Regions from separate parts of the Homo sapiens genome. Here regions 2, 3, 4, 5, 6 and 7 are each reported to be linked to region 1. Evidence: microRNA targets listed by miRTarBase, many of them from high-throughput screens and not tested one by one. Region 1 holds a microRNA gene; each other region holds the end of a gene's coding sequence. Distances are between the middles of the regions.

Region 1 (4,247 bases):
GGCTCTCTGCACACTCCAGAGTGAGGACTTTAATAATCTAGTGGACTGTACATGTTGGGAGGGGAAGAGCGGGGTGCCGAGGGTCTGGAGGGAGAAGAATTGACTGCCCCTTTTGCTCTTGGAGTTAAGCAGAAATCTAAAGAGAAGGCAAAGAATCTTGCCTTCCTGGCATCATTTCCTCCTACCATCCCAGGCCATCATTTATTTATTACAGCCAACAGACTGGCCTCTTTCTTCCCTTTGACTGGGAATGGGTCAAAGGCGGTGCAGGAGGAGGATCTGGTCCAGATAATTCACAAGCAGGGTGCATTTTCCTCTCATTATTGAGAACTGTGAGTGTTTATCAAGAAGGCAGAGCAGGAGAAGATGAACCAGTCTTCTTCCCCTCACTACCCAGATCTCTGCCTGCCAACAAGCCCCGTGTTCACCCTGGCAAAGAGTCTTTACATTCAGACCAAGGAGAGTGTGACTCCTTCTCAGCACTAGCTAGAAACCTCAAGCCCTTGCTTAAGGGCCTTTTTCAGAGAGACCCAATGCCCAGAAGGCTAGATGCGTGGGGAGGAGCCACATACGAGAAACTGCCTCCCTGCTTCGGGTCAGAACAAGCCCCAGGAAGAAAGTATTTCAAACAACAAGGTGCATCTGCCCCAACCCATCCAGCCTGCATGTTGGTGCTGAGAACAGCCTTTTATGGGGCTTGCACTGAGCCATGGGCATGTCTGAACACAACAAGGAAGAGGCCAGAGCAGCAACAGCACGCAAAGGGTTGATGGGCATTTCTTTTAAGACAGAGCAGAAAACTCTTAGATACTTTGCGTCCTTCCTATTTGACTCAGTCTATGAAAGCCAGGTTAGCTTGCTTTCTTCCTCCCTAAATCCTCCATCCTCATGACCAACAAAGAAATAGTTGAATCATTTTCCAGGCACATCTTGGGGAGGATGTGGGGCCATTGGAGGCTGTCCTTCCTAGATAAGTCTTTAGGAGTGAGAACAAGGAGTCTTACCCTCCTCTGTCCACCCACCCCCATGAATGGGCCTGGCTCCAGCCAGGAGTTGTGGTTTTTCCTGAGCTCCTCACCTATCTCTTCTGGATTTCACATTGGCAAACGGGGTTGCAAAGTGCTCTTCGTGCTCTTTGGACAGTGCCTTGTGGAGAGGAATGCCCATGCCCCTGCATTCCAAGGCCTTGGTAAGCAAGCTCAGAGTAGCTGGATTTTTCTAAAGCAATTGCAGAACACCTGCTTTTTCTTTGTTTCCTCTAGAAAGGACCAACCACACCGAGCTCAGTTATGGCACACACAGTGGGACCTAGACAAAGGGAGAGGGTGACCGACATCCCAACTAGGTAAACACAGAGGAGGTTCCACATGGACTTATCTGGGTGGCTGTTTTGAAAACGAGAAACAGTCAAGAGTCCCTGGCCCCACAGACCCACCTCCCCAACTCAGCACTGTCTGTCTGTGCAGCAGGTGCAAGGACGTGTTGAACTAGCTCTCTGCAGCCTCCTTGGAGGATGTGATCCTATGGGAGGGGTAGGAGTATTCAGGTCCTTGACATCTCCCAAATGTGTGATTCCGGGATGCCAAAGGCCTTTGGCCAGGTAATGCAGTGTCTACAGGCTGAGGTTGACATGCATCCCCACCCTCTGAGAAAAAGATCCTCAGACAATCCATGTGCTTCTCTTGTCCTTCATTCCACCGGAGTCTGTCTCATACCCAACCAGATTTCAGTGGAGTGAAGTTCAGGAGGCATGGAGCTGACAACCATGAGGCCTCGGCAGCCACCGCCACCACCGCCGCCGCCACCACCGTAGCAGCAGCAGCAGCAGCAGCAGCAGCAGCAGCAGCAGCAAGAGTAACTCTGACTTAGGAATAGAGACAGCCAGAGAGAAATGTGATCAATGAAGGAGACATCTGGAGTGTGCGTGCTTCTTCAGAGGGACGGGTGATGGGCAGATTGGAAAAAGCACCGCAGATGGGAACCTTAATCTTTCTTTTCTAAAATTGATGCTATGAAAATTTGCGTTTTCTGTAACTTGTAAAAACTAAAAGTTGCTTGTCTACTGAAAAGCCTCTCTGCCTCTATGTTTTATACCATCGGATGCCAACTCCCGGCCTTCTAAGCCACCTCCCCTTTAGGCTAAAACTGAGACATGAACTTGAAAAATTGACACTGGCTTCCTCTCTCTTTAGGGTCCCCAGGCAGGTGGCTGGGACACTATTTGCAATCAGCAAGGAACCCTGCTGCCCTTAGACTCCCCACAGAGCAAGCAGAACTTGCAGAATGGGGTAAAAACACTCTATTAAAGATTTTTTAAACCTATTTATATTGTAATAAAGTAAATGTAAATAAAATTTAAGTGAAGGCAGATTGCAGATATTTCCGATGCTATACAAGATATATCTCATAGTATGGGTGTAGATTCTGCAAAGGTTAATGCAGTTAAACATATTTGACACATAAAAATGTCAGATCCAACATTAATCATTCACCAATTGTAATTGCCTTTCTATGGGTCTCTTCTCCCCAAGACATAGCTTAAAACACCAGGCTCGGTAGAAATCTGGGAGGAAAAAAGCAAATAATACCTCTCAGCTGTCAGGGTCTATGATACGCTTTGATAGATTTAGCACTGATTTCATTCTCTTTACAATTCAGTGTGATTGGGTGTGCGTGTGTGTGTGTGTGTGTGTGTGTGTGTGTGTGTGTGTTACTCCATGTTTCTCCTTTTTAAGGAAGGAGAAGGTGTGGAACAAGAGAAAGTTCCTAAGTCTGAAGGAAGTCCAACCCAGTTATGAAGGGAATGCCATCCACAAGCCTTTTTTATAATTGGCCCCTGCCTCAGGTAAAGGGGTCTCCTTTAAGGAGCCAGTCTGGCTAAATTGGCAGATTCTGAACAAAGCCTGGCCCTGACAAGTCTTCAGAAAAACCGGTTTTCACCTCCAGAATGTGCCCCAGGCAGCAAAATACAATAGCTCTCCTTGGCTGAGTGGTGTTTTTCTTAGGAGCTCACTCTAAAGGAGATTCCAGCTTTGCAGATGGATACCGATCACTTGAATGGCCAAGCCCTGCCCCCCAGCCAGTGACCTCTGAGGGGGATAGGTCTCTTCACCTTCCCCCAACCCTTCCCTGGTTTTTGACCCCTGAGGGTCCCAGATTGCCAGCAGGAACTAAAAGGAATAAACCTTTCTCCAAAATATTTTTCTGTGTCAAGTTAATACAGATTTAAAACCTAGTTTCTGTCACCCCCACCCCTTCATTCCAAGACCCACAGGCAACAAAAGGATGAAGAAGCCAAGCCACAGGCATTTTTTAAAAACATGTTTACTCATAAAAATTGCGTAGCAAATCCAACTGTGGGGTGCTGTTTGTCCAGCAAACTCCTAGTTAACCAGCAAACACCTCCCATTCAAGGTCTGAAACAAGCCCTGAGATCAGAACAAAAAGCACACGACAGACACGATGTGGCACTTTTATTTGCAGCTTGGTTTGAGCCCTATGACCTGGAATCTTTTTATAGGAGATAAGTGCTTGTGTATTTATGTGCCACCTGGCCCAGGTGGAGGCAGGAACCAAAATGGCCAACAATGGTGACCAGAGGGTAGACTGTCAAACACTAGCCAGGGCACAATGCTGTGACTACAAAAGGTTCTACCTGATGTGCTGTTGGGTTCCCCCACACCCAAAGTCCCATGCAAATGCTATCTTCACAAGAGAGGCACAGGGCTTGGTATTTCTGGCACCAAGGTCTGAACTGCCCACTTCCTCCCACCAATGCAGCACAGATTGCTTATTCCCTCTTGCAGAAAAAGAAAGCCCCAAGCCTGGCCCAGAGCAGCTTGCCAGGGAAGCCAGTGTGTGCCCAGAGCTGGAGCAAGCTGCTCATCCATCTTCTATGTCCAACCCCCACTCTTTTATGTCTCATGTCTTCATTGCAAAGCATGACTCGCCAAAAACACAACACAGAGAAAATGGTTTCATCAAAATTCCCTTGCAACAACAACAACAACAAAATAATATTACCCTGCTTTCATTATTCACAATCTTTTATTGAGGCAAAAGGCAAATATCATTGAGCCAAACCTGGATAGACAAATATATACAACCACTGGTAATTTAATATTTTGTGCTAATGGTATACACTGTAGATACAACCCAAGAGGAGTAAATTACAATCCTATCAATAATATATCGCATCCGGGCTCCAGTTTCCCAGTACACGAGAAAATGTGTATTGGCAAAGGCTC
Region 2 (4,000 bases), not on the chromosome of region 1:
ATGTGGACTATAAGTAATATTTAAAACTAGGGATGGCGTATTCATTACACAGAGTGGACTAGCTCCCCTTTTGACTGTCACGTGTCTGTGATTCTGAAGAGTAGCACTCTGCTCCAGATGTTTCACAACAGGCTTTTTATAAATGTTTATTGAATTTTTGAGTAATTACTGTGTATTTAGCACTGTGCTTATCTTCACAGAGAAAAGAATGTTACCATCCTTTCCTTCTGATCTAGAGGGGGTTATCAGACTATTAGACATGAAACAATAGTGGAGAACCCCAAATAGTTCACAATCCAATGCAATGTTTTACTGAGAGCAAGTTCAGAGATGTGAGATTGGATTAGGCATGGGTAAAGGTTTGGTTAAGCAGAGTGGTGAGCAAGGTTCCCTATGTGGGAACATTTAGGAACAGACAGGACTGTGCTCATGAACTTGTGGAATAAGACACCAGTCCAGAACAGAGGGTGTATATTAAAGAATAATGTTGAAGAGATCTGACCAACCTAATGTAAAGCCAAATAAGCCAACTTTCCCATCAATGTAAAAAATTCTTGGAAATTTTTTTCAACAGAAAAAACAACCAGAGTATCCTGTGGATGCCGCATGCTCCTCTGATGAGCTGGCCATAAGTTTAATTCCTGATGTTTTTCCAGCCTCATCAGAGAGCTTAGTAGACAAGCATAAGGAAAAGAGAAAGGGCTGTATTCCAGTTCCAGGCAGGTGACTGTATGACCTCAGGCATATTTGTACTTAACTCTCAGAGTCTTGATTTTATTGTTTACTATGAGGATAAGCATACCAACCTTACTTGGCTTTTGCAAAATTCAGATGAGACAATACATGTGAAGGTGGCTAGAACGTAATAGGCATTCAACAAATGTTGATCCCTTTTTTTTCTCAAAGTGGCTCTCATTCTGATCCACAAAAGGGCAAGTTAAAAGGGTTGAATCCTACCAGGCTCACAAGGTTAAATAATTTCTGATGTATACTGATGTAATCCATATATGCAATGTTACTTTTTCAGTCATATGTAACTTCTCAAGTTACACAGGTTACATGGCATTATTCATTGTATTTAGTTCAGTAAGTAGGCGGGAGAGAAAACTGTTGTATTTTCAGGATAAATGCTTTATGTATGCTAAAATTTAGAGGTCCAAACACTACTACAACTAAATGTTCTTTTACAAGGTTGATAATTACTTTGAAATTAAAGTAAAACTAAAATGCCTTACACTTTTTCTTCCAGCATGCTACAAGTGAAAACTGATGAGAAACTGAATGTGTCTGATGAGAATACAGCAAGTTGCCCTTTGAGCCCCATTAAGATGTGCCTTAATCGTCCCATTGAATGGAATCTGAATTTGACAACAGCATCTCTAACGAGCTGTACAGTTCATAACCAAAATCTCAAAAGCGAAGAGAAATAGATTGCAGTTCTTCTTGCACTATCTTTATTTTGTATGTCAGTATTCCTTCTGAACAATAAGCATTTATCAATTGATCTTGAAGTATTTCTAGTCCTGTGATTTGTCTTTATATTAAATCATTAGCATTAATCATTTTGATTATATTCTTTATATGTTTTTTTTACATGTTTTACATCAGATCATTGTGGAATTTTGTAAACGGATTTTGATGTTTCTCTTTTAGTGGTATTATGTGAATTTTTTATGCCCTAAGTTTAAATACGTAATTGTCCCTAGTTTTATTTCTGTGCACAAAGTTTTAATATATAACACATTGTGATTTATAAAGCTAGTATTGTAAAGATTTGTGATGATAACCTGACCCATGAGCAGTTGTAAAACAGGTGGATACCAACTACCTCGAAGCAAATTGGTGAAAGAAAAGGCAAAGGTATCTCTTAGAAGTAAATCTCCTTCAACGTTATATATGTACAGAAGAAAAAAAGTTGATCATAGCTTTTTGTCAAGTAGCATGTTTCCCATTCACAGGAAAATGTGAGCTTATCAGTTCTTTCTCTGTATTTTAAATCTAAGTCTGTGGGCTTTAAGAGCAATGGCACAATTGCATGTTTACTGTTCAGCAAATCTGTGCCTCTTGATAGAGAAAAATACTATGTGGTTTCTGTAAGTTACCAGTTTTGAATGAAAAATGGTAAATGGATTTACATCTGTTTTATTGTACCTTAGCCTTTTATTTTAAAGTTAAAGGGATGACTTTTAAAAGCAGGACATTCCCTACCTTTAATAGTGCAAAGCACAGTTTCAGCAATGGCTACATGACTATGTCTAAAAACTGAATACTCAGAATACTAAAGGTTTGGTGCTTAAATTTATTTTTCCCATGCCAGAGAAAGCAAGCTTTGGTATGGTAAACCACATGAGAACATGGCTCCTTTCTTTTTGGATAGCCTGGCCATGTGTGAATGGGATTTTAGCTTATTATGTTTCTAAGACTTTTCCTTACAGCACACTTAATGTACCTTTTCAGTCCTTCTCCCAACCCCCTGCAAATTGTCTTTAAAACAACAACACATAAGGAATCTGAAGCACAGGAGAACACAGAGCCAACAAACAGAATGAAGAACAATCATCTATTTTTAACTGACTTTCTATCATTACCATTTTTCCTTTTGCTTAATAACTATCTTGCTTTGAAACTTTGACTCCTTTTATAAGTTCTATGAGGCACATATGTATAGCAATTTGGTTCTAAAAACCAGTGATCTTACTTTAGCTCCATCTTAAAATTTCACCTTAAGTAAATGGCCTCTAGTAGATGATAAGCCTAAAAAAAGCACAATTATTAAAACAAACAGATCCATGTTAGGACATTTCTGAATAATAAAGAGAAAAGGTGTTTCGTTGGGTATTGCAGAAAAGAGGACCAATTTCATATAGTACAAGTTTCGTAAGTCAGGCCAAGTGTCAATTTCAAAAGACAAGAAATGAAATTGACAGTGAATAGTGCTCATAAATTGGTAGCGTATATAAAGAGAAGTTCCTGTCACATTATATTCCCACTAGAATTATTATCCACAGTAAATAAATATTATTTTGTTATGCCAAAAATATAGCGAGCAGCTTCATGGTTAATAATACATTTATGTTGACACCTCCCTAATCCAGGAAACATTCACAAACAAGGACTCCCATATACAAATACTTTAGGAAGAGAGATTTCCCAGGCAGATATCACCAAAAATGTTTTCACTGTAGGAATCACAAAATAAGTTTTTGTCAAAATAACTGTTGTTGAACGTTATACTGGTCTTCCTCACTGGTGATTGATAAGCTCCTTTCTAGCCAGTTTGTGGTACTTCCTTCATTTTCCCTAGAAATGTTACTTGTTAAATGTGTCCTCAGGCGGTTTCATCTTTGTTGATTCTGCCCATCTAAGTCATAAGCTTCTCAAATGCAAGCTACTAGCTAGTTACACTTGTAAGTTTTCCATAATGACATGATTTTAAACATAAAGAGTTCATAAGAATCACTTGGAGAGACTATTTAAAAATGAGATTCCTAGGCCCACCTCAGATTGTGATAAATCTGTGTGACTGACTGATGCACACTTTTTCTGGACTATAATAACTGATGCTGCTCTACTGCTTTAATACAGGCCAAAGTAACGTGGAAGCGCACAGCAGAAAATCTTCAGAAAGACATCAGGTTTGTTCTGATTTTGACAAGGGTAACTTCTTCTTTATTAAAGCAAATAACTGGACATAATCTTAAAGGATTCCACCTCCATCGTCTTTCCTAACTTAGATCTTCATTGAGAAATTGGGCAAGGTTAAGTTTACTTTTTTCTAGTGCTGCGGTTTTGGCTCGTCTTGGTAGTCTCATCTTCATTTCTGATTCTGGTTCTGGAACTTCATGATCACTAAATAGATGTTGAAAATACACGAATTTAGATACAAGCTTTAAAACCAGTTTATTTATAAATAAAACTTTTTTGTTTCTGACTCACATTCTATCAGTGTTTAATTGATAGCCTGATTCCATTGACTTAGCTTAAAACTAAAATCTCAATG
Region 3 (4,238 bases), not on the chromosome of region 1:
CAGATGATTGGAACATTACAGAAAACATGGGTCTTGAATGGGAAACTTTGAACAAAGACTTAGAATTTTGCAATGCGTACCTACAATCTTCTCAATAATTCTGTTTTCTATACTTCTCTTTCTAGTGGCAAAGCATCTAAACAAAACCAAGTTGTCTTGGAACAAAGATGGCATTCTCCATGGAGTCAGATATCAGGATGGGAATCTGGTGATCCAATTCCCTGGTTTGTACTTCATCATTTGCCAACTGCAGTTTCTTGTACAATGCCCAAATAATTCTGTCGATCTGAAGTTGGAGCTTCTCATCAACAAGCATATCAAAAAACAGGCCCTGGTGACAGTGTGTGAGTCTGGAATGCAAACGAAACACGTATACCAGAATCTCTCTCAATTCTTGCTGGATTACCTGCAGGTCAACACCACCATATCAGTCAATGTGGATACATTCCAGTACATAGATACAAGCACCTTTCCTCTTGAGAATGTGTTGTCCATCTTCTTATACAGTAATTCAGACTGAACAGTTTCTCTTGGCCTTCAGGAAGAAAGCGCCTCTCTACCATACAGTATTTCATCCCTCCAAACACTTGGGCAAAAAGAAAACTTTAGACCAAGACAAACTACACAGGGTATTAAATAGTATACTTCTCCTTCTGTCTCTTGGAAAGATACAGCTCCAGGGTTAAAAAGAGAGTTTTTAGTGAAGTATCTTTCAGATAGCAGGCAGGGAAGCAATGTAGTGTGGTGGGCAGAGCCCCACACAGAATCAGAAGGGATGAATGGATGTCCCAGCCCAACCTCTAATTCACTGTATGGTCTTGATCTATTTCTTCTGTTTTGAGAGCCTCCAGTTAAAATGGGGCTCCAGTACCAGAGCAGCTAGCAACTCTGCCCTAATGGGAAATGAAGGGGAGCTGGGTGTGAGTGTTTACACTGTGCCCTTCACGGGATACTTCTTTTATCTGCAGATGGCCTAATACTTAGTTGTCCAAGTCGCGATCAAGGACTCTCTCACACAGGAAACTTCCCTATACTGGCAGATACACTTGTGACTGAACCATGCCCAGTTTATGCCTGTCTGACTGTCACTCTGGCACTAGGAGGCTGATCTTGTACTCCATATGACCCCACCCCTAGGAACCCCCAGGGAAAACCAGGCTGGGACAGCCCCCTGTTCCTGAGATGGAAAGCACAAATTTAATACACCACCACAATGGAAAACAAGTTCAAAGACTTTTACTTACAGATCCTGGACAGAAAGGGCATAATGAGTCTGAAGGGCAGTCCTCCTTCTCTAGGTTACATGAGGCAGGAATAAGAAGTCAGACAGAGACAGCAAGACAGTTAACAATGTAGGTAAAGAAATAGGGTGTGGTCACTCTCAATTCACTGGCAAATGCCTGAATGGTCTGTCTGAAGGAAGCAACAGAGAAGTGGGGAATCCAGTCTGCTAGGCAGGAAAGATGCCTCTAAGTTCTTGTCTCTGGCCAGAGGTGTGGTATAGAACCAGAAACCCATATCAAGGGTGACTAAGCCCGGCTTCTGGTATGAGAAATTAAACTTGTATACAAAATGGTTGCCAAGGCAACATAAAATTATAAGAATTCACTATACCTTCCCCTCCCTGGAACTCAGGATCCAAGTCTAGAAAATGAAAGGACTGGGTTTGAATTGCTTCAAAACCTCTTCCATCTCAGAAGACCAGACCCTGGGAACTGAGATTCCAGACACAATTTTGGAAGCTCTCCAACCAAAATAAGGCCCCCCTACCCCAGTATATAATTGAAGACACTAGTAACACCTGACTGCATCTCATCTCAGCAGAGCCAGAATATGGGGACAAGGTTCAGGGTGCCCTGCTGAATGGTGTGAACAGCAGGATCTCAAGGATGTAATGGAAAGAACTACCACACTGACCATCCAGAATCTAAGAGACCATCTGGGTGTTTGGGAAACCATCTGACGAGGCCTGACTCTATTCCAGTTAGATTGACAATAATTGAGCAGCAGGCATTTTTCATTTCTGGTCAGGAAAGCATTGTGCCTTTAGCAAACAATCAGTGTGCAACAGTGATGTGGTCATCTAGCCAGGGAATGGCTGCTCCATCCCCTGCATAATATATTCCTGCTTCAAACACCTCTCAGAAAACCAGTTCCGCGAGGGTTTTTATATCCCCACAAAGTTGTTGAGAGACAATGATGACCCTGGAAGTGGGGAGGAGGACTTCTGAGAAACAGCAACCTCTCTCCTGATTGGGGTAGCCATGAGATTTCTCTAGCTATATCCAACTTGGCATCTGTACATCATCTTTGGAGGAACATCTTATTTGTGGAAGGACCTTGACAAGCCGTTTGAGATGGAATGTAGGCCCTGATGTTATGCTTCAGTAAAAAAAGATGGAAGCTTCCCTGCTATACCAAAACATGGAGCAAAATTTGCATTTTTCTCAAGAAGGAGAGAAAAGGAGTAGGACTCCAGCAAAGTTTGTCAGAAGGAAAGCTAGAAAAGATTTAAAAGAAAAAAAGAAAGAACAAATCAGCAGTGGTGGTATGGATGAAAGGGACTTGAGAGAACAAAAATGGCTAAGGGAAAATTTTAAGTCATCTGCTGAGCAGTGTGCTGTGTCAACCTCCTCCTAGGTCTCCTCTATGAAATATTTAGTAAAGTCTACATTTCTCTTTAACTCTTTCTGTGAGTAGATTCTTTGGGAGAAGCAGGCATTGGAAGAGGTGTTGAATTCAGCAAGCCAAATGGTCTGTGGTAAAAAACAAAACAGACTTTGAGACTCAAGGCTAAAAAAACAGGGAAATGGCTGGCATTTGAGTCACACACTAACTGCATAGGACAAATGAATCTTGCTTAAACCAACTCATGCATTCTTGAAAAGGTATATGCAACCCAACTGTGTGTTAACTAAGCAATTTTTTTGCCATCTCACATTCTAACTCGAGAAAGATTCCATTTTCATTTTTCACCAACTGTTCTCTGAGCAGAGGTACCTGACTTTTGCACTGTGAGTGGTTTCTAATCTCAGTCTCTGTCAAGCAATGCTAAGAAAGCCAACACCTAAAGACACAAGGGGTACATCATTTAAATGAATAATGTAACCAAACAAACAAAAAAAGAGAATAATCATTAATAACTCAACTGATAGATATGTAGGGAGTAGGCAACCCAGGAAGTTTAAAACTAAATTCTGTTACTCTTGAGGGTTAACCAGCCCCTGGGAATGTTATGAGCAAATGATACTCCATGAGTAAAATGATATCTATGCAAGTAAAATAAATAATTTATCTAACTGGGAACTCAGGCTACCTAAAACATATGCCTCTTTGGTAAAAACTCAACTTGAGCTCCTTCCCTTGCTCCTACCCTCTGAACCCCACCTCCCCACCACACACACACACACACACACTCAGTGTACTTGCAGAACTTGTAGAGGAAGATGGTAAGTGAGCTCACAAAAACATAACAAGTCAATGTAGAGTCATCCAAACTGGAGTGGAGTGGTGCTATCTTGGCTCACTGCAGCCTCCCCTTCCTGGGTTCAAGTGATCCTCCTACCTCAGCCTCCTGAGTAGCTGGGACTACAGGCACGCACCACCACACCCAGCTGATTTTTGCGTTTTTAGTAGAGACGGGATTTCACCATGTTGGCCAGGCTGATCTCGAACTCCTGACCTCAAGCAATCTGCCCACCATGGCCTCTCAAAGAGCTAGGATTACAGGCGTGAGCAACCACACCTGGCCTCTAACCCTTTTCTGAATCATATATTGACCATGTACTGAGTCTATAGAGGATAGAGACCACCTGTGTCTCACATTCAAATCACCATCCCAGAGTGACCGGGGCGAGAGCAGGGAAGAGCAGAGGAAACCTCCAAATGTGGGGACTGTCCAAAGTAAGGTTGGAAAGACGTGACCTGAGGAATTGCAGAAAGGCTATAGGAGGCCCTATCAAGGCTGGTGGGAAATAATGGAGATTGGAATATGAGACTGGGCTCAAATGCCAGCTCTCTCACTAACCACACTCGAGGACTTCGCAAGTGTCTGCTCCCTGCTGGGCTTCCAACCAATGGGACTTCCATCAAGCCTGGCAGATCTCTCAGGAGTGTTCTAGAGATGATACAGGCTGACTTCTCCATCCTCTTAATTTAAGGGTTTGTCCCTTCCATCCCAGAATAAGTGGTATTCCTGGAATTGTGGGAGGCTCCCTTGTCTGACAGATTCTGCCAGC
Region 4 (4,000 bases), not on the chromosome of region 1:
TTACAGATTTTTCCCTCCATCTTCTGTTATAATTTTTAGGTGCTTCAGAACTGGGCCCTTTTTCAGACCCCAGGCAGTTCCCAAGCATTTCATCCCTCACTGAGAGCCGCTTCTCCAACCCACGAATGCACTATCCAGCCACCTTTACTTACACCCCGCCAGTCACCTCAGGCATGTCCCTCGGTATGTCCGCCACCACTCACTACCACACCTACCTGCCACCACCCTACCCCGGCTCTTCCCAAAGCCAGAGTGGACCCTTCCAGACCAGCAGCACTCCATATCTCTACTATGGCACTTCGTCAGGATCCTATCAGTTTCCCATGGTGCCGGGGGGAGACCGGTCTCCTTCCAGAATGCTTCCGCCATGCACCACCACCTCGAATGGCAGCACGCTATTAAATCCAAATTTGCCTAACCAGAATGATGGTGTTGACGCTGATGGAAGCCACAGCAGTTCCCCAACTGTTTTGAATTCTAGTGGCAGAATGGATGAATCTGTTTGGCGACCATATTGAAATTCCTCAGCAGTGGCCCAGTGGTATCTGGGGGCCACATCCCACACGTATCAATATATACATATATAGAGAGAGTGCATATATATGTATATCGATTAGCTATCTACAAAGTGCCTATTTTTTAGAAGATTTTTCATTCACTCACTCAGTCATGATCTTGCAGCCATAAGAGGGTAGATATTGAGAAGCAGAAGGCTCAAGAGAGACAATTGCAATCGAGCTTCAGATTGTTTACTATTTAAGATGTACTTTTACAAAGGAACAAAGAAGGGAAAAGGTATTTTTGTTTTTGTTGTTTGGTCTGTTATCATCAATAACCTGTTCATATGCCAATTCAGAGAGGTGGACTCCAGGTTCAGGAGGGAGAAGAGCAAAGCCGCTTCCTCTCTGTGCTTTGAAACTTCACACCCTCACGGTGGCAGCTGTGTATGGACCAGTGCCCTCCGCAGACAGCTCACAAAACCAGTTGAGGTGCACTAAAGGGACATGAGGTAGAATGGATGCTTCCATCACAGTACCATCATTCAGAATAACTCTTCCAATTTCTGCTTTCAGACATGCTGCAGGTCCTCATCTGAACTGTTGGGTTCGTTTTTTTTTTTTTTTTTCCTGCTCCAAGAAAGTGACTTCAAAAATAACTGATCAGGATAGATTATTTTATTTTACTTTTTAACACTCCTTCTCCCCTTTTCCCACTGAACCAAAAAGAAATCCCATCCCTAAAACCTGCCTTCTCCTTTTATGCAAAACTGAAAATGGCAATACATTATTATAGCCATAATGGTATAGATAGTGATTGCGTTTGGCTATGTGTTGTTTTCTTTTTTTTTAAATTATGAATATGTGTAAAATCTGAGGTAACTTGCTAACGTGAATGGTCATATAACTTTAAAGATATATTTATAATTATTTAATGACATTTGGACCCTTGAAACATTTCTTAGTGTATTGATATGTTGACTTCGGTCTCTAAAAGTGCTCTTTATTAAATAACAAATTTCTTCAGTGGTCTAGAGCCATATCTGAAATATTGCTAAGCAATTTCAGTTCATCCAGGCACAATGTGATTTTAAAAAATACTTCCATCTCCAAATATTTTAGATATAGATTGTTTTTGTGATGTATGAAGGAAATGTTATGTTTAGTTCTTTCAGATCTTTGAATGCCTCTAACACAGCTTTGCCTTCTAAAGCGGTAATTAGGGATTTAAAAAACAACCTTTAGCCCTTTATCAGCATGAAATGCTGGAGTGATGTGGTTTTCTAATTTCTTTGGGGTAATTATGACTCTTGTCATATTAAAAAGACAAGCACAAGTAAATCATTGAACTACAGAAAAATGTTCTGTGGTTTCATAGTTAAGCAAAACTCTAAATCGCCAGGCTTCATAGCAAAGACATAGTCAGCTAAAAGCCGCACATGTGGATAGAGGGTTCAATTATGAGACACCTAGTACAGGAGAGCAAAATTGCACCAGAGATTCTTAACCAACCAGCCTTACCAAACAACACAACAGGGGAACCCCAATCTGCCTTACCCAAGGCCCCACTGGCAGCTTTCCACAGAATTTGCATTTAGAGGAGCAGAATGACATCACTGTCCTTTGGGAGTAGGTCCTCTGAAAAGGCAGCAGGTTCCAGCAGGTAGCTGAGCTGAGAGGACATATGGCCCACGGGGACCTACAGACAGCCTTTGACATTTGTATTTCTTACAATGGAGGGCCAAGGAGGGCAAGGGGCTGTGGAGTTTGGTGTCTACTAGTGTGTATGAATTTGAGCTAGAGTCCTTCTGTGGCATGCACTTTGACCACTCCTGGCAGTCACATGGCAGATTTCCAAGTGCAAATCCTTAATCCAAACAAGGATCATCTAATGACACCACCAGGCCAATCCCTGCTCTCCTCCCCGAAAAGTCAGGGTCCCTTCATTGGAATCCTCCACCCACCCAAGCAGAATTTAGCAGAGATTTGCCTTCAAACCCTAACGGCCCCCTTGTTCTCTGGTCCTTCTCAAACCCACCTTTGTAGGCCACCCAGCATTGCAGGACAGCGTGTGGGGCAGCTGGACCTGTGCTTCCTGCCTGGGAGTCTCCCTTGGAATTCATCCTGACTCCTTCTAATAAAAATGGATGGGAAAGCAAAACACTTTGCCTTCTAAAGGCCGTATACCAAGTATGCTTAGATAAATAAGCCACTTTTCTATTACTTAAGTAAGAAGGAAGTAGTAATTGATACTATTTATTGTTTGTGTGTGGTAGCTTGAAGCACACCACTGTCCATTTATTTGTAAGTGTAAAATATGTGTGTTTGTTTCAGCAGCACTTAAAAAAGCCAGTGTCTGGTTACACATTTCAATTTTAATTAATTGACATAAAAATGCTACCGCCAGTGCCAGCTGCATCCTATTTAATTAAAAAGGTACTATATTTGTACATTATTTTTTAATGTTAAAAGGGCTTTTTTAAGTTTACAGTACACATACCGAGTGACTTTAGGGATGCTTTTGTGTTGAAATGTTACTATAGTGGCTGCAGGCAGCAACCCAGAAACACTTTAGAAGCTTTTTTTCCTTGGGAAAAATTCAAGCACTTCTTCCCTCCACCCTCACTCCAACCACCCCAATGGGGGTAATTCACATTTCTTAGAACAAATTCTGCCCTTTTTTGGTCTAGGGATTAAAATTTTGTTTTTCTTTCTTTCTTTTTTTTTTTTTTTCACTGAACCCTTAATTTGCACTGGGTCATGTGTTTGATTTGTGATTTCAAGACCAAAGCAAAGTCTTACTACTACTGTGGAACCATGTACTAGTTCCTGGGAATTAAAATAGCGTGGTTCTCTTTGTAGCACAAACATTGCTGGAATTTGCAGTCTTTTCAATGCAGCCACATTTTTATCCATTTCAGTTGTCTCACAAATTTTAACCCATATCAGAGTTCCAGAACAGGTACCACAGCTTTGGTTTTAGATTAGTGGAATAACATTCAGCCCAGAACTGAGAAACTCAACAGATTAACTATCGTTTGCTCTTTAGACGGTCTCACTGCCTCTCACTTGCCAGAGCCCTTTCAAAATGAGCAGAGAAGTCCACACCATTAGGGACCATCTGTGATAAATTCAGAAGGGAGGAGATGTGTGTACAGCTTTAAGGATTCCCTCAATTCCGAGGAAAGGGACTGGCCCAGAATCCAGGTTAATACATGGAAACACGAAGCATTAGCAAAAGTAATAATTATACCTATGGTATTTGAAAGAACAATAATAAAAGACACTTCTTCCAAACCTTGAATTTGTTGTTTTTAGAAAACGAATGCATTTAAAAATATTTTCTATGTGAGAATTTTTTAGATGTGTGTTTACTTCATGTTTACAAATAACTGTTTGCTTTTTAATGCAGTACTTTGAAATATATCAGCCAAAACCATAACTTACAATAATTTCTTAGGTATTCTGAATAAAATTCCATTTCTTTTGGATATGCTTTACCA
Region 5 (4,247 bases), 120 Mb from region 1:
GAGATGCATTTCTGGTCTAAATCTTTGTAGAAATGAGTGCTTGAGCCTGTTTGTGTCGGTATGCCTCTGAGAAGTCTTCCCTCTTATATGTCTCTAGTTTTTGGAATGGAGCCTCGCATCCTATACAACCCTTTACAAGGCCAGAAATGTATTGTTCAAACAACTTCATGGTCCCAGTGCTCAAAGACCTGTGGAACTGGTATCTCCACACGAGTTACCAATGACAACCCTGAGTGCCGCCTTGTGAAAGAAACCCGGATTTGTGAGGTGCGGCCTTGTGGACAGCCAGTGTACAGCAGCCTGAAAGTAAGTTCCTTCAGGGACGTGTAGACTGTTGCCTGGCAGGTGGGTGGGATGTGAACATCTTTTTGAAGAAAGAGAAATATCACCCCTAACTTTCCTTCTCTCCTTTCTCTTACAGAAGGGCAAGAAATGCAGCAAGACCAAGAAATCCCCCGAACCAGTCAGGTTTACTTACGCTGGATGTTTGAGTGTGAAGAAATACCGGCCCAAGTACTGCGGTTCCTGCGTGGACGGCCGATGCTGCACGCCCCAGCTGACCAGGACTGTGAAGATGCGGTTCCGCTGCGAAGATGGGGAGACATTTTCCAAGAACGTCATGATGATCCAGTCCTGCAAATGCAACTACAACTGCCCGCATGCCAATGAAGCAGCGTTTCCCTTCTACAGGCTGTTCAATGACATTCACAAATTTAGGGACTAAATGCTACCTGGGTTTCCAGGGCACACCTAGACAAACAAGGGAGAAGAGTGTCAGAATCAGAATCATGGAGAAAATGGGCGGGGGTGGTGTGGGTGATGGGACTCATTGTAGAAAGGAAGCCTTGCTCATTCTTGAGGAGCATTAAGGTATTTCGAAACTGCCAAGGGTGCTGGTGCGGATGGACACTAATGCAGCCACGATTGGAGAATACTTTGCTTCATAGTATTGGAGCACATGTTACTGCTTCATTTTGGAGCTTGTGGAGTTGATGACTTTCTGTTTTCTGTTTGTAAATTATTTGCTAAGCATATTTTCTCTAGGCTTTTTTCCTTTTGGGGTTCTACAGTCGTAAAAGAGATAATAAGATTAGTTGGACAGTTTAAAGCTTTTATTCGTCCTTTGACAAAAGTAAATGGGAGGGCATTCCATCCCTTCCTGAAGGGGGACACTCCATGAGTGTCTGTGAGAGGCAGCTATCTGCACTCTAAACTGCAAACAGAAATCAGGTGTTTTAAGACTGAATGTTTTATTTATCAAAATGTAGCTTTTGGGGAGGGAGGGGAAATGTAATACTGGAATAATTTGTAAATGATTTTAATTTTATATTCAGTGAAAAGATTTTATTTATGGAATTAACCATTTAATAAAGAAATATTTACCTAATATCTGAGTGTATGCCATTCGGTATTTTTAGAGGTGCTCCAAAGTCATTAGGAACAACCTAGCTCACGTACTCAATTATTCAAACAGGACTTATTGGGATACAGCAGTGAATTAAGCTATTAAAATAAGATAATGATTGCTTTTATACCTTCAGTAGAGAAAAGTCTTTGCATATAAAGTAATGTTTAAAAAACATGTATTGAACACGACATTGTATGAAGCACAATAAAGATTCTGAAGCTAAATTTGTGATTTAAGAAAACAGCGCTTCATGTTCATCAGAATATAAAGCCTAAGGGTCTCCATCACTCTGTGAGATGGCTATAATAATTTATTATTTTAATCACCAGGTTAGTGGGCATGCCACTTTAGTAGAGTAGAGAAACCCTTTAATGAAAAGGGGTAGTCCATAACTCAGGCTGCCCACATCCAGACCCATGGGCAAGATTGAATATAATTAATGTATTCTAAAGACTTGCTTGTTTATAACTTTATATTTTCCCAATACCGTTCCTAAAAATTAGAACTACTTAGAAATTTACCCTTGGCTGTTATGAGGAAAAATCTGAGTCTATAGGAGTCAGTTTGTTTTCACTAAATGAGCTTGAAGCATGACTTGTGTTAATCCTAATAAGCCGGTGATTAGGTAAACATGCTGTTAAATGCAAAGGAATGCAAGGAATTTCAACTACTTTTCCAATAGCGTGAGGGCCAAGCTACCCCATCCCCCTTTCCTTTTTATAATATACGTTATATTGATGGGGGAGGGAGCAGTTATATAGAGTTGGCTATTCAGAAGGTCAAAGGTCCAGAGCATTCCTAAAAGAAAGGGACCCAAATCATAGGTCTAGGAGAGGTTGAGAAGGCTGTGTCAATGTTTGTGAAAATGTCAGTAGTCTGTTTCAGAAGCATCTTCATCTTTAGAAAGCGCTGACAATAAACCTTTTATAGGGAGAAGTTTTCCTTTCATCATCACTGTTGGCTCCTGTTCAAATCCATAGTGAAATATTTCAGTCCGCACTTAGTTAAGAGAGTACTTGAGTTTTTAGGCAGAAGAGAAAGTGCTTTTAAAAGGAATGGAGGAGGACAGCTCCTGGGATCCTGAAGGGATTTTTCCAAGTAGATTAAATAAGATCCATACTTTAATGAAGACCCACAGAAAAATACTGCCTAAGAAATGGTTTTAAAGCCTTATGGAAATGCATAGAGGTTAATATAAATGCACTAGTAAAATCTATGGCCAAAAGCCTTCACTTCTGATTTTGACTTGCCTGAAATATTACAGCTTGTGCCTTCTGAATAGTCAGGTTTCTTGCCTGAGACATTCAAATGTTAAGGTATTTGAGAATTTAAACATCAGCTGGCCCAGTCGTGGATGCAGTTAAACTTGTCAGTGCAATGTAACGTGTGAAACATAATAAAGGTGTGAGGCTTTTGTGGTGCAATCTTGTTGAACAGACATCTAAATCCATAGGCAAGATTTACACATTCCCAAGCATCAACCCTGAAGTATTGCTCTCCAACACTGGAGTCCAACAAATTGCTTCTTATGCAGAGATCAAGGAGCAATATTTTACAGATCCTTTCAGTGTGCAGGGAAGTAGTATTTGTCCAAATAAGCTCAAATGTGAAACAGAACCTAGTATGGGAAAACACTGAATCTTTGGGTTATTAATTTCATCCTAGTAAATATAATGAGGGTGATTGAAAGTGCCAATTCCATTTACAATAAGTGTGTTCAATTAATAAAGAAGATGAATACAAGCAAATTATGTCTTTTGTTTAGCTATAGAAAAACCTGAAGAAATTAAAAGTAGTGGAGAATAAAATTATGATATTTAGAACACGTAAGTTTTACCTACATCCAGAATGGAGCTCTGCCCACTTTAAATATTGAGAAAACAAACCAAAAATTATGCATCTGCATATATGAAATAGAAGTTACATATAGAAATATTCATTATAATATATATGTACCTTCCCATGCACAGTAAAGACCTTGGGTTGTTCTTGCTTTTCAATCCAAAAGATCCTGGTGGTCTTGAGCTATTTTTTGGTAGAGATTTTAGAACTGAGAGAGTGATCTCAGAATCTTAGGCATTCCACGAATTTTAAGAAATACTCTATGGGACATTGAGCAGCACAGCAAGTAGTCTCACTATGACTATTTTTTCATATGAACATATGTGTTGTCTGCTCCACAAAGAGATGCAACTGAGTCAAAATTAGCAAAGCATATTTTAGAGTTATGTTTTCCAACAGAGGGAACAGACTTGGTTTGTTCACAACCTCTTCTTGCAGCCTTCTGGCACTACTTGAAAGTCAGTTGAGCAATAGCAGTGGTTCAGTATGACCACAGTACAGAGCAAAGCTATGCTCTGGGCAGAATGGCAGGTGATACAGTGGAAAGAATCCCATGGAATCATGTCTTTTAGCACCAGCTCTGCCATGAATTCACTAGGTGACTCTGGGCAAGTTTCTGTTTCACTCCCTCATGTTAAAGTAGGAAAATAGCTTTCAGCATTTTTGTCACCCCAAAAACCCTTTCTCATACACCCACTTCGGTACATTGGCTCTCATACCTTAAAACTTTTATCTCCTCAAGTAACCACATGTGTGAACTGAAAACTGCTCAAGGCTTTCTGTCATCAAATGCACTTGTTTCCATGAAGCGTTTGAAAATGTATTGTGGCTAGACCCCTTCCCCCCCCTTTACTTTCTAAAGCACCCTTGGTTAGAGGACACAGCAATTCCTGGATCTCAGAGTCTACAGGTCCATACTTTAACCTCACTGTATAGCCCTATCCAGGCCTCATTAACTCCTTGCCCTACACAACTGATGCTTTAAAACAAAGCATAT
Region 6 (4,223 bases), not on the chromosome of region 1:
ATTCCTGAAATCCAAGGGCTCATTTTTTGTCCATGTTTCCTCAGATGATGATCATGCTGGGAGCCATCTGTGCCATCATCGTGGTAGTTATTGTAAGTAAGTATCGCTGAAGTTGCTGGTGGGGTGAAGAGGTGGGAAGGTCCTGGAGTCTTCTCCCTGCCTGCCTGCCTGCCTGGGGAGTGGGGCTGCTCTGACTGAGGTATGGAGACCGCTGCTATGGGATCGTCACCTGGTTCGGGACGGGGGAAGGGCAGAGACAAGGGATTTCTTTGATGGACAAGCCTTCCCCCTGCAACGCATTGCAGGGAGATGGCGCCTCCTGTTCTGAGGAAGTGGGGCTATGCTGTGTGTCACTGGCTTGGGTTGGAGGGAGACCATGGGGATGGGGCACTTAACAATGGAGAGACCTGAATGTCTGGTAACTTGGTGTAATTCACCCTCTTGTTTTCTCCTGTCTCTTTCTCTTTTCCGTCTGGGACTTCCTGATTCCTGTGTCCAGTCTACTTTTTTACTTGAGAATGTACCACCCCTTCCCTGTTGTCCATTGCCATCCACATTCATGTCCTCTGCCCTCTGTTTGCTCTCTCAACACACTTCCCCACCCACCGTCCTCCATTCCAGCCCAGGCTTCTCCATCACCCATTCCTCCTTTTTCGTTGCGTTCATTTGCACTCTGTCCCTCAACACTAGAAATGCTGCTCGTGGCACAATCTAAGTCATTACCCGAAGAGCAACAGCTGGCGCCTCCTCCCTGCCTGCTTTTTCTGTACTCTCAAGTTCCCCCAAAGCCCCAAAGAGTTGGAGGCCAAGGGAAGGGGCAGGGAGGGGAGTGGCTGAGGCGAAGTACCCATGAAGCTGCCCAGACTTGGGAGGAGAAGAGTATCGGTGCCCATGGTGACTTCTAGAAAACCTGGCCACTGGTAGGAGCTAGGGAGGGGCTGGGAAGATGGCAGCTCACTCAGTACTGCCTGGTCATGTGGAGCTTTCCTTCCTGGACCAGGCCTGAAGAGGGTCCTGGGGGTGGACCAAAGTCCAACTTGGTTTCAGTGCAGTACCCTTTTCGAAAGTAAAAACTTGTTTTTTGTAGTTATTTCTAATCTGTTCGTCCAGGATTTTCCGTGTCTTTGGGGATCTTACAACTTTACTTTGTTCTCCAGAGGCCTGGAGAACACTTAGGGATTGTGAAAATAGCAGGACTTGTTTCCATCCTAGAAGCAGTCCCATGTGCTTCTAGCTGGAAGGAGCTTTCTCTTCTTTACATTTTCTACAGCATTCTGTATGAGGGCACCAAATAAATCCATCTAGCTGGTAGTTTTATCTAGCCAAATAATTTAACCTAGCTCCCAGTTAATTGTTGGCATAAAGAGAGAGATTGCCTGTTAGTTATAGAGAAACAGTGAGTCAAGTGCTTAATTTGAAAGTAACAAGCTCAGAGGAAGCCACTCCTTGCCCTCGTTAAAGAGGGTCCTGTTCCTCTCTTCCTGTTGATGAAGGAGCGTGAGGGTGTTAGCAGTGTGAGATCTTTGGACACCCATGGAATCCTTTCCTCCACACCACCCGTGCACTTGCCAAAGACAGGGATGAGGCAAGTGGTTCTTCCTGGGGCCCGGCCGATCCTCAGGATGCAGAGAAGTCATGTAGACCCACCAGCCCCACCTTGGGGGGAGGCGTGCCAGCCTGTGTCAGGTGTGCTTGTGTATTGCTGTGCTGTCATGGGGCCCTCTCCTTGAGAGCCGCCTCTCTGTTCTTCCTGTAGTATATTCCCCTTTGAACCACCCTTTCCTGTCTGAATTCTACTTTGCCTCCTTTCTCTTCCTCCTCTTTGCATGGTTTGTGTGTATAGACAGTGGAACCTGAGGATGGGATCTGCTCAGCCTATCTTCGGGGCAATTGCTGAGCTTCAGGATGGGCTATTAATGTGGGATAAGCCCAGGTGCAAGGGGAGGAGGGCAGGCTGGGAACAGAGCGGAGAATGCCCATGGCCCTTTATTCCTTCTTCCCTCGGTCCACGAACAGGAAGAGGCTGAGGCCATGCTGGGCAGGGTCTGGATGCCCACTTTCCATGCAGCAGCATTTCATTGCTCAAAACCATCCTTCCTTTCCTTTCGCCCTTGTTTCCCACATTCCCTTCGTCCTGCCCAAGGGCGGGACTGAAGAGCTGGAAGAAAGCAGTCAGTACCCTCCCAACGGCCCCCCTCGAAGGTCTCCACTCTCCTCTGGGCTCCTCCTTGCCTAATGCAGGGGGTCACCGCTGGAGAAGAACCACCACTGTCCTCGATGTGTCCCAAGCCTGGAGCGAATCCGTCCTCTTGGCTCTCCCAGCCCTATCACAGGAATCATTCCTGGGTTTCTGTCCCTCTGAGGCTCACCAGGTGTAGTTGGCCTTGTTCTTTGGGGGTATTAGCCCTTCTACTTTCTTTCTCACCCACCCTGTACCCTCTTCTGTGTGTCTCTGCTATCCCCCTTTCCTCCCACCACCCATGTGCATGAGCAAATGTGCAACAAAACCCTGGGACTTTGCAGTCAAATGAAGCTGAGCTTCCCACATCCCGTTCTTCGGTTTGCCATGAGACGATGTGGGGTTTCCACTGTGTGTCTGTCATCACCTCTTTGTCTTTTTTTCCTAACCCTGATCTCATACTTGTATAGAGTAATAACAACAGTTGTACTTCCACCAAAGGCATGTGGCATATTTACCAATGTCATGTATTCTGAACAAAGGCAAAAAATACAAATTCCTACCATTAAACTGGCTTGGTTGTTGTTTGGGTTGGAGTAGCTGTGGGGGCTTGGGGAAGGGTGTCGTTTCTTTCTAGTAGTCTCATGTCGCTTTAGGTCAGCTGGGCTGGCTTACACGCGCTGTGCGGTCTTCATGGAGATGGGAGCTCTGTGTGTCAGCACAGGAAGTGGTCTCCCAGCGTTCAGCCTGAAGCAGCCCAAGTCCTGTAGGTGCTGGTAAGAGGAAGTGAAGACAGGAAGTTGCGTGGGCATCTCACACTGGCAAACAAGCACAGGTTCCCTCAGGCCTCTTCCATCTGCCTCCTGTGCTCCTTCCTAGGTCCTTGGCCTGCTTGTCCTGTCCCAGGGGATGTGCCCAGATAAGGCTGTCAGTGAACACCCCCTTACCCCCTTTTCCCCATCATCCTCACGTACAGTTTTGGTATGCTGAGTTCCACCGTATTGATTAGGCACATTTTAGAAACGAATAAAAAGGAGAAGTCTCTCCTTGCAGCTGAGGGAGTGAGGCATTTGCAGGTATCCTGAACCTCCCAGCAGTCACCCGAGGGAGCAGAACCCTAATTGCAGCTGAGGTGCAACTGAGATGGAGCCACGGGGGTGCCTCTGAGGGCCTTTGTTTCATACTTAAACACTTTGCAAGTTGGAGCCGCTAGGCTTGGTGACAGGGCTCAGTTGGGACCAGTGTGGAGAAAGACAGGAAAGTGGAAAAGCTTGGTCGCAGCAGACACAAGGGCCTTTTATTTTGACAGAGCTGAGTTTGGGAGGGGTAGCCCAGCCCCAACCCATGCCTCATTGTCCCTCACTTGTTCCTTCTCCATTTCCTCCAGCTTTGTTTTCCTACCGTCACACCACCAACCTGGCTCTTTGGTCTTATCCTCCATCTGGACATTCTGCCTTCTTCTTGTCCCCTCACTTCTTCCTGTTCTCTGCCTTGGTGCATGAGCCCAGGGTGCACAGTGAAGGAAGGCAGAGGCCTCTGCAGAGCCAGGCCCAGTGCCCCATGAGCTGGTGCCACCTTCATGTATTTTTAGCTCTGTGACTTGACTTAGAGTCCTTCTGGGAGCACGTGACTACTCTTTCTTTCTACTCTGAGGCAGGAGAGTGACAGACTTTAGTGAGGTAGCTAGGAGAAAACGAGGGAACACGACTGGTTTCATTTTCATTTAGGGCAAACTCAAAAGCAGGAGGCTGTGATGGGTGGGTGGCTGGAGCTTGGGGCATCTGGGCTTCCACCCTGGTCTGGGCGGGGGGGTGGTTAGAGTGGGTGAGGTGGGCCAGGGCCAGAGCCAAGGGCACCCAGGCTCTTACCTTGCCGTCTCTGAAGCCCCAGGAACATCAGTGCAAGAAGGAAGAGACTGCTGGCAAAGATGACTCCCAAGGCTGTTCTCCGCTCTGTAGGTGAGAGCAACGTGGGCGGGGATCATCGTGCGCAGGAATCATGAGCTGAGCCCTCACCTGCAGTGTCCACCCCAGGGAGGAGGAGC
Region 7 (4,247 bases), not on the chromosome of region 1:
AGGAACAGGTTGGGGTGGGGCAGGAGGGTAATGGGGAGGGGGCCCTGCAGCAGGAGCAGAGGTAGGGGTGTAGCGGAGTGGGGCAGTAATGGGGAAGAGGCCCTGCGGCAGGAACATAGGTGGGGGGTAGTGGAGGGGGGATCCCCAAAGTCAATGGGGACTTTGCTGCATACCTCCTTGTCCCAGAGGTTGTTCTGTATGTAATTTAAGGACTTCAAGATTATCATTGAAGAAATATTAACTGCTGCTTTTATAAATCTCATGTTTGACTTCACTTTTGGTTGTAGCAGGGGTTGTGAAAATAAGAAATAAATATTATCCTTTTCTTTGGATGAAACGAATAATTTACTTCTGTTGTCTTTCAATGTCTTAATTAAGAAGCCAACACACAATGAGATGAGAGAGTGATGAGCCGCTGGTTTTGTTCTCCCTCAGGATCACAGACTGTGCCGTGGAGCCCTTAAAGGCTGAGCTCGCGGAGCTGGAGCAGCTGATCAAAGACCAGCAAGACAAGATCTGTGCTGTGAAGGCCAACATCCTCAAGAATGAAGAAAAAATCCAGAAAATGGTATATAGTATCAATTTGACTTCGAGAAGGTGAACACTCAAAAGTTTCAGAGATGAAAAGTCACCTCAGTTTAAAAGCAAAAAGGAAGATAGAAAATCATTACTCTTTTAAGTTCCAGTTTGCTAAGAAAATGAACAGTTTACAATGTTATTATCCAGCTAATTTTCAGAGCTTTAAAACTGTAAGCATGTTAAGTGTATTAAAAAAACCATGTTTTCTTACCTCCTTCCAGATGGAATACTGGCTAGTTATAAATAGCGCTTCCAAACACCTCTGTGAAAAGTTTTTTTGAAAGCCTGTTCTTTGTGTTTCTGCTGTAACCTGTTTAGTTCTGTACCAGAACTCTCTAGCAGGTAAGTGGTGTGGGCATACCAAGGGAACAGTAGTCCTTTATTTTGGTTTAGTGGAAAGACTTTCAGAGGTCAGTGCCGAATGAAGGATGACTGTGTACTTTTTGATAGGCACTTGATAAGTAGAATGAGGCCTGAAAATGAATACATTATATTTTTAGTTAATTTCCAATGGAAAGGGCTAACCTCAGCCTGTCTCCATATCAGGTACCTATCAACTGGATTGTTTTCATTTTTGTTTTTTGACCTCTTTGTAATTGCATGTACTTCTCTATGTAATTTTCCTCTTGATCTCTACTATCGTTTGCTTGTGTTTCTAGTCCTTAAAGTTCATAAATTTAAAAAGGAGATTTCAGGATGGCCTTTATGGACGTTGTCTGGACATACATCCTCACTTTCTTCCGCAGTTTACCCTGGTTTTCCTCAGACAGAGGCTAGCGCAGCCCCCCGGAGTCCTTGTTCTCCTTAAGAGGGTCTCGCTCTGCAAAGCATTGGCGCCATGGCTTTTCCTTTGCATGGGTGTGCATACCGAGAGACAGGCAGCTTAGGAAAAACAACATAAGGAAGACTTAAAAGGATGCACTGATTTACGACGTTTTTTGATGTTAGCCATTTTTTTGGAAATTGTTTTTTAAAGCAAAAGTTTTTTAAAAACATGGTTTATAGTTTTTCACTTACATATACTATTGTAAATACTTAGCAGAGTCTTAAGTTACTGTATAAAACATTTCATTGTGTTTGAAGACATACTTATGGGTCTTGAGGTCTGGGTCCTAATACTTTTAAATAGTGTATTTATTATGTAAACTGAGGAGTGCCATTTAAAGTGTGAGGATTGCCTGAAAAGGTTTTGTTTCTTTCTTTTTTTTTTTTTTTTGAGATGGAGTCTTACTCTGTCGCCCAGGCTGGAGTGCAGTGGCGCAATCTCGGCTCACTGCAACCACCGCCTCCCGAGTTCAAGTGATTCTCCTGCCTCAGCCTCCTGAGTAACTGGGACTACAGGCGCACGCCACCATGCCCAGCTAATTTTTGTATTTTCAGTAGAGATGGGGTTTCACCGTGTTGACCAGGATGGTCTCCACCTCCTGACCTCGTGATCCGCCTGCCTCGGCCTCCCAAAGTGCTGGGATTACAGGCATGAGCCACTGCACCCGGCCAGGTTTTGTTTCTTTAAGGATTAGCACAAATGGCACCGTTGGGTTTTTCTTCATACAATTTCCAAAATAAATTCTGTACTCAGGTTGTTATATGATTTTCTGAGCTGAATAAGTTCAGGAGCAGATTATTAAGATCTGCCATTCTGAAACGCTGGTCTTTTTCTCCTTCCTATAGTGCACCATAAAATTCTGTTTGATCAGATTATATTACATACATTTTGGGGGAGTGGAGGGACATGAGTTAAGTAGCCCTTCATGTATTTATAATCTCTTTTCTACTGAATCAAATGACTTAGCCATGACCCTGAATGGACCTTGTTTTACTTCAAGTTGAGATGTCTGCCTTTTATGAATTTGTATATGTGAATAGAGTTTGGGGGTTGCCAAAAATTGCATACATTGTATGTAAGTAAAATTTTTTATGAAGTAGTCTGTCAAATTGTATCATAAAGTTTATTTTTCTTTTATACGTAAATCATTAAAAATAATCACATATTTTTTCCATAAGTGTATGGATTGTGCAGTTCGATTCACACATGGAAAAATCATAAGCATTTGGATTTTTTATTTTCAAATGTGTGTGTTTTGTTTTTCTCGTGAGGAAAGTTCAGGGAAATACATCTTTTCATTCATATTGTGACACATCTCTTTTCAGTATGAATTGAAGTTTTATAAGATAGGTAAGCATTTATCAGAAATTGTAAGATCATTTGTGAAGTTTTAGAAGGTCTCTACACGTGATTGTTACTGTATCTTATCCTACACACTAGATCCTGATCTTAATTTGAGAAATTTAATTTTTCTCTTATTTTGAGACAATACACAAATGGGATTATTAAGTATTTTTCTATACTTTGGTTTATAAGTTTTCAGGGAGTACTGGAGTCATACTTCAGGAATTTGAATTTAAAAGTTGAGCTGATGATAATTTATATTCAAAGGAAATGCATAATAGACCTTTGGAAGAAATAGTTCAAGACTAAAATGCAGCTTTCTACTTTGATATTCATCCTTATTTTTCTTTTTAATAATCAACTTTTAAAAACTGAAATCTATGAAGAAAAATGATGTCACTTGGTGACATGAAGTGCTACTTAGGATTTGGGTGATATGGAATTCTAGTCAGTGTATTAACGAGTGCCCCCGAACTATTCCGGTGCTAGTCTTCTGAGCTGCCCTGGACTGATGGGGTTTATCTTCTGTTGGTCGATGTGCACAGTGTCATGGCACACGAGTAAGAGAAAAGATGGCCAGGGCCTTTGAGCAGCTTTGGGATCAGTAGCCAGTGTGAGCCAGCAGCAAGCAGGATGAGCAGCCTGTTTGAGCTTCCGCAGGAACCTGCTTCAGAAGGAGGCCACGCCCAAGCAGGATCAAGGCTCAGCATGTCACCGTCAGGGAAGACACTAAACACCCAGACCTGGACTTGGCTCCCCACTCTGGACTCTTCTTTCCACACCCGAAAGTGCAGAGAGTAAATAACCTTGTTCATGGCGCCTCTACGTAGACCACTGTGGGCTCCTCTGAGGGGCTCTCCAGCAAAGACTAATGTAGCAAAGCAGAAGTAAGAAAAATTCTAAGTCAAGCATGAGCCAGCCTAAGTCGGAGGAGAAGGAATAGCTGTTCTCAGTGATTCTCAAATGTAACTACTTGCTACATTTGGGCTCTGAGTTTAACTCTATCATAGGATACACTTTATTAATAAAAATGTTTTATATTTTCCTAAAAGGTGTTTCAATAAGTATGGTTTATGCAAGCTTTACATTGGGGCATTAGTGAAGCCCCCTAGTCAGAACCCCTTTTTGATTATGTGTATTTTCATAAAGGGATATTGGGAGGGACTTTGGTTTCTTTTAAATTCAGCAAGAGAAATTTAAATGTCTTTTAAAGCTGTAGAACTTGACCGGGTGTGGTGGCTCACGCCTGTAATCCCAGCACTTTGGGAGGCCAAGGCAGGCAGATCACCTGAGGTCAGGAGTTCGAGACCAGCCTGGCCAACATGGTGAAACCCTGTCTCTGCTAAAAATAAAAAAAATTAGCCAGGCGTGGTGGTGGGTGCCTGTAATCCCAGCTACTTGGGAGGCTGAGGCAGAAGAATTGCTTGAACCAGGGAGGCAGAGGTTGCAGTGAGCCGAGATTGTGCCACTGTACTCCAGCCTGTGTAAAAGAGTGAGA

The links. Region 1 holds the annotated microRNA hsa-miR-205-5p (UCCUUCAUUCCACCGGAGUCUG, at 1,686-1,707, shown strand). A microRNA usually pairs through its seed, bases 2 to 8, with sites in the 3' UTR of a target mRNA and lowers its output. Matches are read on the target gene's strand: a 7mer-m8 pairs with bases 2 to 8, a 7mer-A1 pairs with bases 2 to 7 and ends in A, and an 8mer does both.
Region 2: miRTarBase lists NCAPG as a target of hsa-miR-205-5p. Seed matches in the 3' UTR shown: 8mer at 3,288-3,295.
Region 3: the mRNA of TNFSF8 is a reported target of hsa-miR-205-5p. Seed matches in the 3' UTR shown: 7mer-m8 at 904-910 and 7mer-A1 at 1,415-1,421.
Region 4: the mRNA of RUNX2 is a reported target of hsa-miR-205-5p. Seed matches in the 3' UTR shown: 8mer at 1,642-1,649.
Region 5: miRTarBase lists CCN1 as a target of hsa-miR-205-5p. The part of its 3' UTR that is shown has no 7-base or 8-base seed match.
Region 6: the mRNA of VAMP1 is a reported target of hsa-miR-205-5p. Seed matches in the 3' UTR shown: 8mer at 1,488-1,495.
Region 7: the mRNA of TRAF3IP1 is a reported target of hsa-miR-205-5p. Seed matches in the 3' UTR shown: 8mer at 1,001-1,008.

The regions. Positions count from the first base shown.
Region 1 is chr1:209,430,481-209,434,727 of GRCh38, forward strand. It overlaps MIR205 (microRNA 205), which reads left to right and starts at 1,653; the gene lies at 1,653-1,762. It overlaps MIR205HG (MIR205 host gene), which reads left to right. Exons shown (of 4, transcript NR_145437.1): 4 at 1,724-2,069. RefSeq lists enhancers at 2,494-3,091, 3,092-3,691.
Region 2 is chr4:17,843,151-17,847,150 of GRCh38, reverse strand. NCAPG (non-SMC condensin I complex subunit G) reads right to left here. Exons shown (of 21, transcript NM_022346.5): 21 at 2,286-3,849. The coding sequence ends at 3,726. LCORL (ligand dependent nuclear receptor corepressor like) reads left to right here. Exons shown (of 8, transcript NM_001394446.1): 8 at 1,250-4,000. The coding sequence ends at 1,263. Among named protein-coding and RNA genes, the nearest start is that of NCAPG, 34 kb to the right of the region's middle.
Region 3 is chr9:114,900,213-114,904,450 of GRCh38, reverse strand. It overlaps TNFSF8 (TNF superfamily member 8), which reads left to right. Exons shown (of 4, transcript NM_001244.4): 4 at 126-3,306. The coding sequence ends at 520. Among named protein-coding and RNA genes, the nearest start is that of TNFSF8, 28 kb to the left of the region's middle.
Region 4 is chr6:45,546,788-45,550,787 of GRCh38, forward strand. It overlaps RUNX2 (RUNX family transcription factor 2), which reads left to right. Exons shown (of 9, transcript NM_001024630.4): 9 at 40-4,000. The coding sequence ends at 518. Among named protein-coding and RNA genes, the nearest start is that of RUNX2-AS1, 28 kb to the right of the region's middle.
Region 5 is chr1:85,582,319-85,586,565 of GRCh38, forward strand. CCN1 (cellular communication network factor 1) reads left to right here. Exons shown (of 5, transcript NM_001554.5): 4 at 98-306; 5 at 422-1,632. The coding sequence ends at 724. Among named protein-coding and RNA genes, the nearest start is that of CCN1, 3.7 kb to the left of the region's middle. RefSeq lists an enhancer at 1-101.
Region 6 is chr12:6,460,763-6,464,985 of GRCh38, reverse strand. VAMP1 (vesicle associated membrane protein 1) reads left to right here. Exons shown (of 5, transcript NM_014231.5): 4 at 45-96; 5 at 500-2,749. The coding sequence ends at 516. TAPBPL (TAP binding protein like) reads right to left here. Exons shown (of 7, transcript NM_018009.5): 6 at 4,048-4,131; 7 at 2,670-2,952. The coding sequence ends at 2,837. Among named protein-coding and RNA genes, the nearest start is that of VAMP1, 7.8 kb to the left of the region's middle.
Region 7 is chr2:238,398,319-238,402,565 of GRCh38, forward strand. It overlaps TRAF3IP1 (TRAF3 interacting protein 1), which reads left to right. Exons shown (of 17, transcript NM_015650.4): 17 at 436-2,579. The coding sequence ends at 601. Among named protein-coding and RNA genes, the nearest start is that of ASB1, 26 kb to the right of the region's middle.